Linked DNA regions of Homo sapiens: regions 2 and 3 are each linked to region 1. Evidence: fine-mapped expression QTL. A gene starts in region 1. Each other region holds a variant in brackets. All regions are shown on one strand. Distances are between the middles of the regions. Region 1 holds the start of PELO (pelota mRNA surveillance and ribosome rescue factor). Region 2 overlaps ITGA1 (integrin subunit alpha 1). Region 3 overlaps ITGA1 (integrin subunit alpha 1).

Region 1 (5,955 bases):
TTTAATCCAGGCATTGTGCTAAATGCTCAGAGGCTCGGTTCATTTAATCCCCACAGCAATTCTCAGACCAGAAGTAGTACAGTATTTTCATTCCCACTTTACATTTGAGAAAACTGAGGCTTAGATAAACTTGATGACGTTTCCCAAATCACACAGCTACTATATTGTGGTTCCAGGACTTGAGTCCAAGCAGCGTAACTCCAGAACCTTACTTACTCTAGTTACTTTACTCAGTATATTAGATTAACTCCAAGAAGAATACTTTGGTTTTAAGTATATGTTTTTCTTTTTGAGATTATTGGTTAATAATCTCAATTACTCTTGCCTCATTTCATAGACATCCACTTTCCAAATTCTTAATCAGTTCAGTCTCTAATCTTTCAGTGCAGCCATCCCCAACCGTTTTGGCAGAGAGACCGGTTTCATAGAAGGCATTTTTTCCACAGACCAGGGGTAGGGGAAACGGTTTCAAGATGATTCAAACACATTACATTCATTGTGCACTTTATTCCCATTATAATTATGTTATAATATATAATGAAGTAATTATAAAACTCACCATAATGTAGAATCAGTGGGAGCCCTCAGCCTGTTTTCCTGCAACTAGACGTTTTCATCTGGGGATGATGGGAGACAGTGACAGATCATCAGGCATTAGATTCTCATAAGAAGCGTGTGCAGTTCACAATAAGGTTCATGCTCCTACTCATGCTTCCAAACCCTTAAAGAGATCTGATCAAATCAAGTCTCATTTAAAATAGAAAAGTATGTAGTATAAAGTCTAGAGCTGAAACATTTGTCATCAAGTGTCTCATATCAATAACTAGTTTGTGACTCTGGGCAAGTTTCTGTCTTCTCTAAATCTTTACTCAATGACATGTCTTTCTGTCAGTCAGAATAAAATTGGTTAAGAAAATAACCGGCTTGACATTTATTTGTATTTGGGTTTATTGAAGTTCAGAAAATAAGCACTGATTCTAAAATTAATTCTCTAACCATAGTTATCTCTCAGTCTCTACATTTGTATTGACTAGACATATAAAAGATTCATAAATATGTAAACATGTAAACATAAAATTTGTAACTTGTGAAAATTAATTGTAACAATATCACTGTTAGTGATGGTTATCACCAATAATTTGTAAGTCCTAGAGGAAATAAAAATATTAAAATTGAAATTATATATTAGCCCCCAGAAGAAAGGTAAATTTCCCAGTAATTGTAAACTTGAACATATTATATGTTAACCCTACTTTATTTCAATATTTTACAATTTCTTTTTGTTTTTTCTAATGAAATATATTGCAATTTGCTAAAATGCCATATATGTATTTGCATATGTATGTATATGCTGTACATATATATGTACACATACATACATACACATGATTGTGTATATATAGACACACTATTATATGTTTTTGAAAACTAAGCAATTTGGAGAAATATCATTGGGAAAGTACTTACTATGATTTTTAAATGTCTACGAATTAATCAATATCTATTGGTTACTGTTCAAAGCACAGAGAGTCATACTGAGAGGCATAAGACATAACTGATACTACCAACAGGGAAACGAGATATACACAGGAAATGAATTCCTTGGCAGGGTATGAGAGCATTGAACACAAACAAAGGAACTTAAGTAAAGTCCAATGGGATTGAACTGTGACCCAACATAATACAATTTTTCTAGAGACTCATTTGTGTAAATTTGAAGACAGAACTGAGAAATGACATTATAAAAACTAAAAACGGGAGAACGAGATTTTTAATGTATTTACTAAATAGTGAATCAGTTCAGATACATAATAGAAAAGGAATTTCTTGATTAATGGGTCAACATACTGAGATCTGATGGCCTTCAACCTCCTTGGGTCTGCCCACCCCATTTTTGACGCTCCTTAAACTTCTTCAACTTTTGTCTTCTCCAGCTTTTAGTTGCTGTGATCCTCTATCTGGCAATGTATCCAGTGAACCCTGTGGGCTTCTTCCTTCCTGTCCCTCGTGTTACCTGTTCTGTGCTACCTGTGTTGCGTTCTGCTCAACGAACCCTCCTTTGGGTGGCACTCTTGTCCTGCCTAGCCCTAGTTCTGCTAGAGATGCTCAATTAGTTGTTGAGTTGAAGAATTGAATTGAACTGTTTCCCTCAGATTCCTCTAAACACAAATCCACTTATTCTTTCTGTCTTTGAAATTCTCAAAACCGCTAAGACACAGCTATTTTGAAAATAGCCAGCATTGGTTGAAGCTAGGGTGAATATGGCTTTTGACTCAGAGAGGTTGTTCAACTCACCAGGAAAGGGAAGCATTGCAAGTTCCTAAGCACTTCTGGACTCTTAATGCATTTTCACTCGTGAAAGTTTCAAGCAAGAAAAAAATAAAGTAGTGCCCCGAGTTCTTTATTAGATTCAATTACCAGCGTACAAACATCCTAATTCACTTAAACAAAATAGCCCACACACATTCCATTTCCAAGGAGGCTGCTTTTCTTCCTCTCTTCCCTTCTCGCTCTCCCTCTTACTGTTTTTCCTCCGTCTTGCTTCTCCTTTTCTCCCCTTATCCTAGTTATCTCAAAGAAAAGCTTATCTGCAACCACCCTTTAACCACGAATTACCATAAACGAAGCAACCCCCCCACCCCCCCATAAGCGAAAGCAAAGCCCTCAGTGGAGCCTGTCGGGGTGGTGGGGACGCCCCCTTTCGTGCAAAACGACTTCACGGTGAATTTCAAGTGTCCGCAGGGGATGGAAGGGGGGATTCCAGATCCTCGCATTTTCACAGACGGCCTAATCCCTCTGCGCAATGGACCCGGGAAAGCTGCCTCCCGTTAAGGGCGCCCAGGCACTGTCAAAGCGCCCTCCCTGCCCGGGCCGGGAGAAGTAAGGGGTGTGAAGGCGGAGCCACTGGGCTGGCAACACCCTCCCGAAGGTCCAGCCCTTACCCGCCTTCCTACCACCTTAGGGGATTTGGCCCGGAGAACGAGATCACCCTCTCAATGAAAGGCAGATGTCCCTTTAAGGTTTGCTTCTACAGCCCGTGGACTTTAGCCTAAACACGGACCCGCGAAGCTGGCTTTATTTGTCCATGTCTCGGACAGAGCCTGGGAAGCTGCCAGTGAGATTTCAGAGACCAAGAGCGCGAAGGGGCGGGCGATGTGGCAATCCGTCTGGGATGTGAAAAGCGTGGAGCGCATTTAGAGGAATTCGACGAAAACACAGGAAATCACTCCTCTCCCGCTCCTGGGCGCCGCTGCCACTGGGGCAGAGGACTGGGAACCGCGGCAGCGGGATAAGTGGCCCAGCCAGAGAGCGCAGCTCCCGCGCCCGGTCCTGCCCTGCGAACCAGCGCGGCCCCCTGGCGCTGAGGCTGCTCCGGCCATGGCCCCTCGGCCCCGCGCCCGCCCAGGGGTCGCTGTCGCCTGCTGCTGGCTCCTCACTGGTGAGCGACTCGCTTTTCTCTGAGCATCTCCTGCTCGCGGGCTTGGGGCTTGGAGCGGGGAGGGAGGTCCTCAGAGCCATGGGCCAGATAGGAAGAGAGAGCGCCCATCCACTTTCGGGCATTCCAGGTACTCAGGCCAGGCTACGGGGCAGGCAGGAGTTTCGCGTTCTGGTTTTGATATGAATTAGTTTTCGTGTCTCTCCAAAGTCCTTCACCCTAGGAGTAGGAGTGAGGCAGCACTGAAAACCTTAGAAGGTAGAATTCACTTTTAAAATTAAAGTTGTTTTTACAATACACATTGTATATTAGGACTTTGCTGAATATTTCCTCCCCTCCACCCTTTTTTATGGCATGGGATGGGAGGGTGATGCTTATAGGGCGCCTGATACATATGCAAAATTCCTACCCTCGGGTTGTTCCAGAGTGGACATTATTGAATTTTCTTGCTGTCTACTATTTAGGCTTTTTTCCCATGCAGAACAAGAAAAGGCAGGGATGCAAGACGAAACTGCCACTTGTTCCAAAATGATGTTTCTATGTCAGCACCCAAGAGGAGGGATATTTTGAAACGTAGAAAGGAATGGTGAACATTTTCTCTGTAAATATCACAGGGCAGTCTACTTTTAAGATGCAAAATATAGTATTGTTATTTGTACATAAATGTGTATTTTTAAGGAGGGGACTTAAAAACATAGTGGAAATGCAAAGTTGTATCCAATTTAGAAAAAGCTTGAAATATAGCATTTTGTAAGATTTTCCCAATAATGAACTCATGGTCAGATCTTTTTTACCAGTTACTGATTGGGGTGGGGGAAAGTTGAAATGGTGAAAAATGGAAGAAGGTGGGGGGAAAGTGTATCGATAGAATCTCTGTGTGAAAGAAAATCACCTTATTAATGGGTTAATTAACAGCTGGCTTTAACATATCATTGATATTCAATTGTTCAGTGTTTTTACTGCTGGCATGGTTATTAGTACTAGTTAATTTAGCATTTTTACCACTAAAAACAGGGTAGAGCCAGCTAGTTTAGACCTGCCTTAGATGGCCAAGCATTGTTAAGTTTTATGAAGATGATTTAGAAGTTGATTATCAGCAAGCAGAGCTTTTTTCAGAAGGGAGGTAATGTAAAGAGAGTTAATAATTAGCTACTGGCTTTTCATCCAAACATTTCCCACTACTCAGGAAATGTCCAATAATCCAAACAGTGGTAACTGCTGAACAGCATTATAGCCGGTGAGTGGTTTAACTTACCAGCTACTGCCACTACTTTTTACACATATTTGACCTATGATTCTTCTCCAACTCAAATTTTTTTAGATTGTATTTTGTTGTTTTTGTGCAAAATCTGAATACAGTAGTTTACTATCCAAGTTGTACTTTTTCATTCTACCAAATAAGCAGTCTCTAGAGTAGAAATGATGAAATGAGGTTTGCGTATCCTCTAAAAAGACAAGAGTGAAACTTGAAGTAACAGAGAAGTTTAACAAGTTACAATTTCATATATATGTTGGTGAAATATACATTGGTGAATCCAGGAAGAGACTTAAAATATTTAGAAACCTTGTGTGCACTATATTTATGCCCATTTCGCAACACATGAGGGATCTGAAATTGGACTGCTTTCCCATCAGTCATTATATTCTGTAGGCTCTTCTTTAGCAATCTCTTTCAGATTTGGAAACTTCTCATCAATTCAGAGTCCGTTTGTAACCTGGGGACTCATCACCATACTTATCCATGCACACTACTGTAGAGCTTATCTTTCTGTCTTCAATTTGAACCCAACTTCCAGTCTACCCTCCTAATACATCATTTTTACTATATCTGTTTTTAGTCAAAAATCTTTGGTGGTTCTTTGTTGCCTTTAAGATAAAATCCAAAATTCTCAACTGACTGCCCTAATCCAACACCCTCTCTCTATCTCCTACTACTCCTATGTCAGTTTCTTATTGCTGTTGTAACAACTTGCCATAGATCACCAGCTTAAAACAACATAAATTTACTATTGTACAGTTCTGTAGGTCAGAAGTATCACTGGGCTAGAATCAAGATGTCACCAGGGCTGCATTTCTTCTGGAGGTTCTAGGGGAAAATCAGTTTCCCTGTTTTCACCAGCCTCTGGCCACCACCTGCATTCTTGGCCTGTGGCCCCTTTCTCCATCTTCAACCGAGCAGGGTAGAATCTTCAGATCTTCCCCCATGACTCTGCTTTATCATCACATCTCCTTCTCAGACTCTGACCCTACTACCTTCCTAAGGATCCTTGTAATTACAATGTGCCTACCAGAATAATCTCCTCATCTCAAGATCTTTAATTTAATTACATCTTCCAAGTCCCTTTTACCATCTAAGATAACATATTCACAGGTTCCAGGCATTAGGTCATGGATATCTTTGGGAGACCATTATTCTGCCTACCACAACCCATAAGCATAAACTGTCCATTATAGCCAATCACTTTTCTTTACTTTCTCCATAATCCTCATGTTCATTTTGCCACTGAAGATATGACCTT
Region 2 (5,955 bases), 130 kb after region 1:
TAAAATAATGATTTTGAGTTTTATATGTAACTTTATTTCAGTCTTATTTAATTTTTGCAAAGTAATTAAGTGATCAAATAAGGAATATTGTAGCCTTCATATACAGTGTAAGATTTCATTTATTTTCTTTATTGTGGTATGCTTATTTTATTGAACCTTAATAGTGGTTTGACCATAAGCTGAGATAATGTCATTTTATATATAAATAGATTAAAATGTATATATTTGTAAATAAATAACTAAAGTATATTTTTGTCCCTATTGAAATATAACATAATCAATATTCTAAGCAGGGTTCCAACATTTCTAAACTTAAAAAGAATGTTTTAAGTGAAAATATAATAAATACAGTGGTGGCCTGGCAATTAGATGATAGGCAGGTGTGCATGTGTGTATAAGAATTATAAACAATAAATGTAATTAGACACTGAAAGCACAGTGAACTCAGAGACCAGTTCTATAGAGTTCCTCAAGGTTATCTTCATGACTGCTAATATCATTGTTATAACAGTGTGGATATGCTGAACAATAGAATCTTTTTTGATTGATTGCCAAAGAGATTTTTCTATAATGCTAATTTAATAATCTGTACAATATGAGAATCACTTCAAATAAACATTTCCATCAATTATTTTTTAAAATTTTTGTAGATTTGCAGTACCGTGTCACCCTAGATTCACTAAGACAAATATCACGAAGTTTTTTCTCTGGAACTCAAGAGAGAAAGGTTCAAAGGAACATCACAGTTCGAAAATCAGAATGCACTAAGCACTCCTTCTACATGTTGGCAAGTAAATCATATATCGTTGCTGCCTTATTCCAAATCAAGAATACAGTAGAGATGTCTTATTTCAAGTCAATCAAATTCTTACTGTTTTATTTCAAAATGCACTTATGATGTCATAAAGGAAATCTTGTTTGTTCATTTTTATCATAAAATCGCAGGTCTAATTTTCTCATTTCCAAATATTTGTAAAACTATCTCTAGTCTTCCCTGTCTGCATTATCAGACATCCATATATTATGGAACGGCAGGAAAAGACACAGTGTTCTAGTTGACAAGAAACCTTATTCATGTCTTCATTTCTTTCACTCATTCATTTATTCCTTCAACTTGAAAACATTTAATTTCTGTGGGCCTTGTCTGTCAGTTGTGGTTGGTAAGTGATTAACTGCTCTGGGGGCAGACTGCTGGGCTGTATGCTTTCTGGGATCCATGTAACTACATATCTCGCCGTTTGATTTTAGAGCGAAGGGGAAAATTATCTGGTATTTTCTATCATCTGTAGGCTTTGTGCTACTTCAGTTTTTTTTTTTTTTAATTTTAGTGGATGAGGGAGTTTTGGAAATCAAACTATTAATGTTTAGAGATGGCTGGTAAGCCAGTGTGAATCATTTAAAATGTATTTTGTTGGGACACTGTGTATATGGGGAATGTTCCCAACAGAGGGCAGGAGTTTCCTAAACATTTTCTTAAAATGTACATGAGAGTGATAAAAACAAGAAGCAGCATGAAGGTAATGAGGAAACTGATTTTAGTAACTGACATTAAGACTTAGAGACTTGACGGTAAACTTGGAGCTTTAAAGGAACCAGGCCAATTTTCCTACTTCTGACTTATTTCTGTATTATTGATATATTCATAGTCTGTATTTTGAAAATTGTAGTTCAGGGGCAGGGGAGTGACAGAAAATGTGCACCCTTTTGTGCCACATTTGTTCTTCCTCAGTGATTTTCATGTTGATATGCTTCATGATACTTATCATGAAGCTTATTCTGTCAGGACCAAGATCAATCTATTATTTGGTAAAATAACACTGGAGTTGCCCCTCCTATTTAGTTAATCAGAACTGAACACTTAGGAATTAGAATGTGGATAAAATTTGAATGGGTATGAAACCAGATATGGCATTGTCTCCAACCTGCTAAAAATCATCTCAGTCTATGTTTGTCCACAAATTCAGTGTCTAAGTTATGTCCAGGTACTGGTGTTTAAAGGACTGAAATATTTTCAAAATTTCGAAAATTGTTTTGGATTTTGAAAGAAGCACTTTGAAATTTGTTCTGGAGTCAGCCAGTGTAGAATTTGTATCCCAAATATTCCACATTCTGAGAGACTTTGGCAACGTCGTTTGGTCTCTTAGAGGGTCAATCTTTCATCTGTAAAATAAGGACAATAATAGTTACTCATCTTAGAGGACTGTTGAAATAATTTGCAATAATGTATATAAAGCTCATAATTTTGAATACTATAAATGATTATTGTTATTGGTGGCATGTTAACAGTATTAATCATATTCACATCCTTTCCAAATAATTTTACATTATAAAATTCTTGGCCAGGCATGGTGGCTCACGCCTGTAATCCCAGCACTTTGGGAGGCTGAGGTGAGTGGATCACCTGAGGTCAGGAGTTCGAGACCAGCCTGGCCAACGTGGTGAAACCCCGTCTCTACTAAAAACACAAAAATTAGCTGGGTGTGGTGGCACATGCCTGTAATCCCAGCTAGTCGGGAGGCTGAGGCAGGAGAATCACTTGAACCTGGGAAGTGGAGGTTGCAGTGAGCCGAGATCGTGCCGCTGTACTCCAGCCTGGGTGACAGAGAGAGACTCTGTCTCAAACAAACAAACAAACAAACAAACAAACAAAAACTTATAGCTGTAGGTATATATTATATTAATGAAATGTAACTCATTTTATAGAAAGTTTGCCCTTCTGAAGTTGGGAAATGTTCCCGGAAGTGTTACATAATGATCTTTGGCTTGAGGTCTCAAGAAAAACTATATTGTGATGCAGGTAGCTCCTATGTTGACACAGCCA[A/G]GTGTGATGTTGCCATCACTCCAGCAGGGCCCTCTGAGGAACTGGAAGTGAGTCAACAGGTCATACTCTGAAACCTCCACATTCCCCTATGCCCCTTGTCAGAATGCCAATCCCTCTCCAGGGAAGCAAAAGCCTGATGAGATCATATGTCAGATTAGATGCACAAGAATGCTGCAGTAAGCCTGACCCTTGGGAACAGAAGAAGGAGACATAACAAGATCAGAACACCCGGTAAATATGATACCAGTGATATATTTTATGTTTCACCCTCTAGGACAAGCATGACTTTCAGGACTCTGTGAGAATAACGTTGGACTTTAATCTTACCGATCCAGAAAATGGGCCTGTTCTTGATGATTCTCTACCAAACTCAGTACATGAATATGTAAGTCAGATTTCTTTAAAATACAAAATACCAACTTGTGAACATTTTAATGTCACTAGTAAACTGTGTTTTTTCACTACTCTGCATTGATCACAAAGAACGAACAACTAACTGGAAGAAAGAAAAAAAAGGCAAGCAGATTTTATTCCTGGTCAGGAATGGAGAAAGAGGGAGCTCTTGCTCTAAAGACCTTCTCTTCAAGCTGTGAAAACCTGGGGAATTTTAAGGAGTTAGATGTGGGGCAGGGAGGTATATGTAAGCATGTCCAGAGAGGAACTCCAGATGTACAAGTACAGCTCATAAACATGCTTCCTTATACAACATATGTTCAAGAAATGGTGGCCATTTTCTTCTATGGCAGGGACTTTAGCATTATAATGACATGTTAATGATCTAAAGGTAACAAGGGGTTGCTGGTTCTTGTTTGCTCCGTTTTCTCAATGGCTTTATCTTCCTCTGGTAATTGGCAAAGGGTCCTGAAGCTCCCAGGCCGTCTATAGTTGTTTTTCAGCAAGCTTACCTACAGATAAATAGACTAGAAAAAAAAAAACTGTTTAAGAAAAAATAATGCACTTTCTCAGCTATCTACTGTTTAACAAAATAATGAACTTTCTCAGTTATCTACTCTTCAAGAAAATAGTAAACTTTCTCAGCCATATCTCCAGGTTTGCCCTGGTAACATTAGGAAAAAGCTTGAAACCCATGCACACATAACCCTAAATCAATTTAAAATGTTTTAAAAAAGAATTAGGCTCTTCTAGACTTTTTCCAATCCTTCTAATTTCCTATTGTTGGAGTTTAAGAAAACTAATAAATGACACTCATTTTTACCTCATTTGAATTTAGGACCAATGGAAAGAAATCTCCCCCATTATTCTAATAAGCACTGGATTGCAGTGTATGGTTTAGGTATAAAGGGTGTCCTCACGCTGAAGCATGGACTTAGACCACCAGTAACCACCTAGGTCATCAGCAGTGCTGATCCATCTCTGTCCTTCTTCATGGAGCCCACCTTGTAAAACTTGTCAAATGGAGTAGAGCCAAATGTGTGCTTCCTGTGGGTACAGCTGCTCTGAGAATAGAAATGAGAGAAAGGGACTGAGTTGTGTTCACTTAGTTCCTGTTCCCAAAGTTAGAGTCCATGTGCCACCCCTGAGAGTGGAGTGAGGGGAGAGAAGAGGGAGGGTGTCACTAGCGTGGCTCCAATGGAAGAGATATGAGGGATGGGGAATTCTTTTTCCCCATACACCTATCTTCCATTCTCCCTTCCTTCCTACCAGATATATTGATTGTCTTATACATACCAGGCATTGGAGCTTACAGTCTAACACTGGAAACAGGTATTAAGTAGTAATTAGAGCATATGCTATGGAGGAGGATTTCAGAGCTCTCTAGGAACTTCCACCTAGGCTGAGAAGTCAGGACAGCCCTCCTGAAGTTGTGCCATTTCAGTGGAGCCCTGAAGGATAGGGTGATTTCCACCCTATTTAGGGGAGTTTGGGGAGCAGAGGGGATGCTAAGTGTGAAAGTCCTGAGCATGAAGGAAACAACGACATTCGCTAGTGTGGCTGACGCTAAAGAGCAAGAAAGGAGGTGACGTGAGGTGAGGCCGGAGGTAAAGGCAGGGGCCGGGTCATTCGGGACTTGGTGCCACTGCACAAATTCTAAACTTTTGAAAGAGCAGTGCAGTGCTTTTGAAGGTTTTTATTTGGTTCAGCCACACGACAGGATGCAGCAGAGTGAAGAGTGGTTGGAGGGAAACAGGTGGATGTGGGAGCCCCGTGGGAAGCTATTACTTTAGTTCAGGGAGGAAATGAGAATGCTTGGGTGTGAGGTGGTGGTGGGACTGCAGAAGCAAGAAAGGATTGGAGAGATATTTAGAAGAGGAGTAGAATGGACAGGGCTTGGTGAGTTACATATGGTGGTGGTGGAGAGGCGGTCAATGAAGAAGAATCAAGCAAAACTCCTAGATTTGTGGCTTGACCGTTTTCCACCCTCTCAACTGAGCTTTATGATATTCCTAAGTATTTGATTAATTTTAAGAGAAAAATCTCATGATTAGAGTTGAGTAGATTTAGATCTTGCAGTACTTGACTTTGTATTTCAAAACTGTCCTTCCCTGGCAGACAAAAGCCAGTGCAAAGCACCCATGAAAATTGTGCGTTCTTAAAAGGACAAGCACAATTTACATTTGTAAGTAAATGTTTACTCTTCTCCCCTATAAATTACAGGGATAAATATAAAATCCCTTAAGATTTTTGCAGGGAAATTCTCCTTATGAGTTGCTTAACTTACTTTGGCTGTATGCCATTTTTGTTACACAAATTGATGGGTAATTTTCAACAATGCGTAGCTAAATTTTGAAAAATTCTTTCCTGTCATCATTTCAGATTCCCTTTGCCAAAGATTGTGGAAATAAGGAAAAATGTATCTCAGACCTCAGCCTGCATGTCGCCACCACTGAAAAGGACCTGCTGATTGTCCGATCCCAGAATGATAAGTTCAACGTTAGCCTCACAGTCAAAAATACAAAGGACAGTGCCTATAACACCAGGACAATAGTGCATTATTCTCCAAATCTAGTTTTTTCAGGAATTGAGGTAAACTTCCAGTTTTTCATTTATTTGTTCTCTTAACATCATTTACCTGGCCTACTTTTCATGCTACTGAGATAATTGCTTTTATTAGATTGATTTTGAAAGAATAGAAGGAATTTTTTACATTAGTCCTCACCAATGGTGAAAGTATT
Region 3 (5,955 bases), 35 kb after region 1:
GAAGCTGGAAACCATCATTCTCAGCAAACTATCGCAAGGACAAAAAACCAAACACCACATGTTCTCACTCATAGGTGGGAATTAAACAATGAGAACACTTGGACACAGGAAGGGGAACATCACACATCAGGGCCTGTTGTGGGTGGGGGGAGGGGGGAGGGATAGCATTAGGAGATACACCTAATGCTAAATGACGAGTTAATGGGTGCAGCACACCAACATGGCACATGTATACATATGTAACAAACCTGCACGTTGTGCACATGTACCCTAAAACTTAAAGTATAATAAAAAAAAAAAAGAAAAAGAAAATGGCACACTTGCTCTTGACTCCCTTGGCCGGAGGTGGAGGTAATACATTGTTAGTTCTGATCCTTGTTCATTGATGAGAACCAGCCCACATGGCTTCCACCTACTGCTAGGGACTCTGGGACATACAGACAAGCACATAATTATTTGGTGATATTTGGTGAGCCCTAACTGCCGCAGAAAAACTTTTGAAGCATTTAGTTCTCTCCCGAGACCAGAAATCAATCAGGTAAACATGAATAAGAAATTTATAGTATTATCTCAGTTTTTTTTTATTGGCTTTAACAAGAGCATATGCTGGGAGGATATTTGCTATATTCTGCTAGTTTCCCCAATTTAAGGTTGTCTGTTTTGATTAAAACCCCTTAGCCCAGTGGAAAGATGAAACTCTCATCTATTTAGTCCTTAATATCTCTATCACTAAATGGATAGGTTTCATGTACTCTTCAGTATTGATAGCCTACTTTCTAAGTGTGTGTGTGTATGTGCATGTGTTTCTGCCATTACAGTCATTGTATGAAACAATTATGTATTCTGACAACAGCTAGCACAGATTTATCTATTTAATAAATGTTGGTTGATTAATAGATAAAGGCACGTTTATATATACCAGCAAATACGAAGACTTGGATTCAGTAAAGTTTGATACCATTCAATAGCATTAAGATTAAGGATGACTGTGACGGCCTTTAGTTTGCATTTTTAGACTGCTTAATTTGGGTCAATGTTTCTCAAAGTTATCTCCAGTGGTCTAAACTGTTAAATCTGTTCCGAAGTCTAGGAACCTATGTCAGTCAAAAAAGTATGTTTTTAGACAGCTCTCCTCACCCCATTCCGTGTGAAGATGGCCCCACTGATATTCATAAAAAATAAGAATATTCCCTCCCAATGAATGTTGCTATAAGGAAATTTGCTCATACAGAATTGGTAAATGGAAAAATGATGTCACTATAATACATAAGTCACTATAATTCAGTTTTCCCTAGCACCTTAATGTTTATACTACCAATGCCACCACTTGAATGCCAAATACACTAAGAGTTGGACACAGTAAGCATATACTCATACAGTATTGTAAGGAATTCCCATTCTCCTTGTATTCTTCCTCTTTGCCTAGTTTTGCTGTGTGTGATTTCTTGGAAGGGCTTATATAATTGGCCCCAAACTTAGTTCATTTTGCCCTTGTCCCCACAACTATTCAGCCTTAACATTTTCTTACTTCATTCCACTGTAATCATTTATTTAGTATAGAATTTATTAGGAATCTAAATGCCTTTAAAATTATGCTAGTATTTTTATTTGAGTTGTTTCGACTTTATGTTTTAGCTAAAAAGGTGTATGGACTTTGAGTTGACTGCCCCAACTCTGTTTTTATCATAAGCTGTATGATTTTTATGTGTGATTTTGTAGAAAACACAAGATTGCTTTTAGGAATGAATATATCACATTATAATAGAAATATCTGTTTTCTTGCAACTTAAATTGCATATATTTTATGAATGGAAGAATGTCAACAACAAAATTGGCAATGGGACTATTTGAGAATTTGCCATGTGGAGGCCGTTTCCTGACCTTTTATCCTTTATATGCTAGAGTGCTTTAGAGTTTCCAAATGGTGTTCATATGTGGAATTTTATGTCAATCCTTGAACAATACTACAAGGATCATTATTAACATTTCTACTTGATAGACTTGGAAATCAAGGCTCAGAGGAGACAAATGTTTTGCCTACAGTAGATTGGTGACAACATTCTGGCTATAATTAGTTACTCTATTCAAATAAACATATTTGAGCTTCGATTTTACTTAGGGCACTGGGGATACAAAGATAATTAAAATGAAACTCAGTCCTCATCCAACCAGTTGCCTCTCTTCTTCCTCCCACTGATTCAGGGACACTTCCGTTTGGACTGGGCAGAGCTAGACAATCTCAAACTCATAGAGGCATCTGCATTGCTAGTTTCCTAGAAGAGCTGGAGGCTGAGTATCCGGACTGCTCTGCATAGGGGATATGGGACACTTAGGTGGCTCCTGGCCAAGTGGCCCAAGCCTGTTGCTGACTGGAAGTCTGTCACTTGGCTCTCCTCCCTCGCCAGTTCGTATTGTAGCCTCTACCCTTGACACTGTCTCACCCAGTGGAAACACAGCTGCAAGAGCTGCAGAAGGCCTATTACTTCTAATCTTTCTGCTTCGTATGATCGGTAATTACACCCCAGGGACACATAATGAAGATGGTTCATCACTGCTTTTTATGTGCTTCATAGTGTGAGATAGTGGACTGGGAACTTGAATCAGAGCAAGAAAATTGTTTTCTGCTCTAGGTTTGGTCACTTAAACTAGCCACAGTATATTAGGCAAAATATTTCAACTGCTTGGGCATCAGTGTTCTCATCATTTGAGGACACTGTCTCATTAGATGGTCGAATAGGGACTTTTCCAGCTATAGCCTTCTGAGATTCCTCAAGGACACATCGAGTTTGTATTGCATGGTCAAAAGAGGGCTCCAAGGAACCAGGTCTAACAAGCTTTAAGGTGAGTGAGTTCTCTCAATGGTGCCCCGACTTTCCTGACATCCTTCTGAATCTTAGACAAGCCTCGGAGAGAGATACTCATGGAATGACCAAAATGGTAGCACCAGATCTGTATGAGGTATTTAATCATTTTATTTTATTTTAATTTTTAGACAGAGTTTTGCTCTGTTGCCCAGGCTGGAGTGCAGTGGTACGATATTGGCTCACTGCAACCTCCGCCTCCCGGGTTCAAGCAATTCTCCTGCCTCAGCCTCCCGAGTAGCTGGGATTATAGGCTTGCGCCACCATGCCCAGCTAATTTTTGTATTTTTTAGTAGAGATGGGGTTTTGCTCTGTTGACCAGGCTGGTCTCAAACTCCTGGCCTTAAGTGATCCACCCACCTCAGTCTCCCAAAGTGCTGGGATTGCAGGTGTGAGCCATGGCACCTATCCAAATCATTTTAAATGGTGATGATTATGTCCAATAAGTCCATCTTATTCTCTTGGGCATCTCAACCTTTTCCTGCCTTAGGAAAATGGAGGTCCTCTAACTCCT[A/G]AGATCTTGTCACATGATCCTGCTGTAGGCAGAACCCACACCAGTTAAATGTTTATTTACTTGATCAATGTTTAGCCTGTGGTTGGCTTTTAAATATCCCAACGGAGACTGAGAAAGCAGTGCAGAGAGTGCTAAAATACAGACAAAGGAAAAGAAAGAATTGGAAACTAGGAGAAAACAAGGAAAAAAGAAGGGGAAAGTGCTTTCAGCATTTCTTTTCAACTTCCTCTACATGCTTAGAAAACAGAATTGACTTTTGTATGTCTGTGGTAGCTTTACAAATAAATTAAACATATTATCAACGTTTGCCAATTTATTTTACAAGTATACGGAATATCATTAGCACATTCTGGTGATAGTATGTCAGATATTTAAAGAGCTCTAGCTTGAAGAAAATGGGCCTTACTTTAAGAGTGCTATATTTGTTTTATGTTCTCATACTTAATGATCTGGGACCTAATTTTCTTCAGCCCTGATTATGCTTTGTTTCATGACCTTTAATATATATATATAGTAATCATTAAATCAAATAATTATAAGTCACTTACCAAAGGAATTAAATATGGAAAATGCATTTGAATATGTACATGATTCATCCACATTTTAATATCTATCCTTACTTCTGTTTCCTTTTGTCTCCCATTAATGATAAAATAGCTGAGAAGATTGTTCTCTCTTTTCTTTCTTTTTTTTTTTTTTTTTAGACGGAATCTTGCTCTGTTGCCCAGGCTGGAGCGGAATGGCATGATCCCAGCCTATGGTGACCTCTGCCTCCCGAGTTCAAGAGATTCTCCTGCCTCAGGGTCCCGAGTAGCTAGGATTAAAAGCATGTGCCACCACGCCCTGCTAATTTTTGTATTTTTAGTAGAGATGGGGTTTCACATGTTGCTCAGGCTGGTCTTGAACTTCTGACCTAAAGTGATCCGCCTGCCTTGGCCTCCCAAAGTGCTAGGATTACAAGCATGAGCCACTGTGCCCGGCCAGATTGTTCTCTCTTAATGGGCTGATAAGTAACCAAGTAAAACATATTGTACTTTTACCCCATGCTAGAGGCAGCAAGCCCAAGCTGCAGAATGCCCAATTACACAATCCTCTATTAGCCACCAAAGAGAAGATACTTTTAAATTTGTATTACATTATTTAAATAGAAAAAATAAAGACAGAAGATCCTTTAAAAAGCAAACTGGATAAATAGTACTTCAGAATTCTATATATTATTTGTTACAACTGCATGTAAACCTATAATTACCTCAAAATGAAAAGTTTAGTTTTTAAACAAAGCCTATTATTGTATGATTAAGGTGGATAATTGAGCTGCTTCTTATTTTTATTATAGTAAAATATACATAAAATAAAATGTATTATTTTAACTGCTTTAAAATTGTAATTCAGTGGCATTAAGTACATTTACAAGGTTGTGCAATATTGTGAACCACTGTCTGTTTCAGAACTTTTGTTACTACATCCAGTGGAAATTCTGTATCTGTTACTCTTATTCCTCCCTTCCCTCTGCTCCTGGGAACTACAGATCTGTTTTCTGTTCCTATTAACATGCCGCTTTAAATAATATTTCATATAAATGAAATCAGACAATAAAAAGGTATTTTGTGTCTGGCTTCTTTCACTTAGTGTGATGTTTTCAAGATTCATTCATGTCATAGTATGTATCAGTATAGGCCCATCTTGTTTTAATGCACTTCACTTTATTGTGCTTCATAGATACTGCGTTTTTCACAGATTGAAGGTTTGTGGCCCACTCTTCACTTGAACAAGTAACAGCAAGTGCTCATTTTGTGTCTCTATGTCACATTTTGGTAATTCTCGCAATTTCAAAATTTTTCCTTATTATTATATCTGTTATGGGGCCTTGTGATCAGTGGTGCCAGGAACTGTGCCTATATAAGATGGAAATTTTGATAAGTGTGTGTGTTCTGACAGCTCCACTGACCAGCTGTTTCCTTCTCTCTCTCCCTTTTCTTGGGCCTCTCTATTGCCTGAGGCACAAAAGTATTGAAATTAGTCTAAAATAGGCAGGGCACAGTGGCTCATGCCCGTAATCCCAGCACTTTGGAAGGCCAACACAGGCAGATCACAAGGTCAGGAGATCGAGACCATTCTGGTCAACATGGTGAAACCCCGTCTCTACTGAAAATGCAAAAATTAGCTGGGCGTGGTGGCGCCTGCCTGTAATCCCAGCTACTTGGGAGGCTGAGGCAGGAGAATCGCTTGAACCAGGGAGTCAGAGGTTGCAGTCAGCTGAGATCATGCTACTGCACTCCAGCCTGGGTAACAGAGTGAGACTCTGTCAAAGAAAAAAAAAAAAAAAAGGAAAGAAGTTAGTCTAAAATAACCTTACAGTGGCCTCTAAGTGTTCAAGTGAAAGGAAGTCACACATCTCTCACTTTAAATGAAAAGCTAGAAATGACTGCGCTTAGTGAGGAAAGCATATTGAAAGCCAAGATAGGCCAAAGCTAGGCCTCTTGGTCCAGTTAGCTGAGTCATGAATGTAAAGGAGAAGTTCTTGAAGAAAATTAAGTGCTACTCCAGTGAACACATGAATGATAAGAAAGCAAAGCAGCC

Evidence for each region. PIP is the estimated chance that this variant, and not a neighbour inherited with it, causes the effect.
Region 2: its variant is fine-mapped to the expression of PELO in whole blood (GTEx, PIP above 0.99).
Region 3: its variant is fine-mapped to the expression of PELO in whole blood (TOPMed, PIP above 0.99). The same link has a PIP of 0.9 or more in unexposed skin.

What each region holds. Positions count from the first base shown.
Region 1 is chr5:52,784,976-52,790,930 of GRCh38, forward strand. PELO (pelota mRNA surveillance and ribosome rescue factor) reads left to right here and starts at 2,941. Exons shown (of 3, transcript NM_015946.5): 1 at 2,941-3,439. ITGA1 (integrin subunit alpha 1) reads left to right here and starts at 2,941. Exons shown (of 29, transcript NM_181501.2): 1 at 2,941-3,439. The coding sequence starts at 3,379. It overlaps PELO-AS1 (PELO antisense RNA 1), which reads right to left. Exons shown (of 5, transcript NR_186455.1): 2 at 560-617. RefSeq lists an enhancer at 2,629-2,908.
Region 2 is chr5:52,919,682-52,925,636 of GRCh38, forward strand. ITGA1 (integrin subunit alpha 1) reads left to right here. Exons shown (of 29, transcript NM_181501.2): 17 at 651-787; 18 at 3,096-3,206; 19 at 5,597-5,806. Among named protein-coding and RNA genes, the nearest start is that of ITGA2, 67 kb to the right of the region's middle. The variant A/G (reference allele first, on the strand shown) is at 2,822.
Region 3 is chr5:52,820,234-52,826,188 of GRCh38, forward strand. The region is part of intron 1 of ITGA1 (integrin subunit alpha 1); the gene reads left to right. Among named protein-coding and RNA genes, the nearest start is that of PELO-AS1, 22 kb to the left of the region's middle. The variant A/G (reference allele first, on the strand shown) is at 3,376.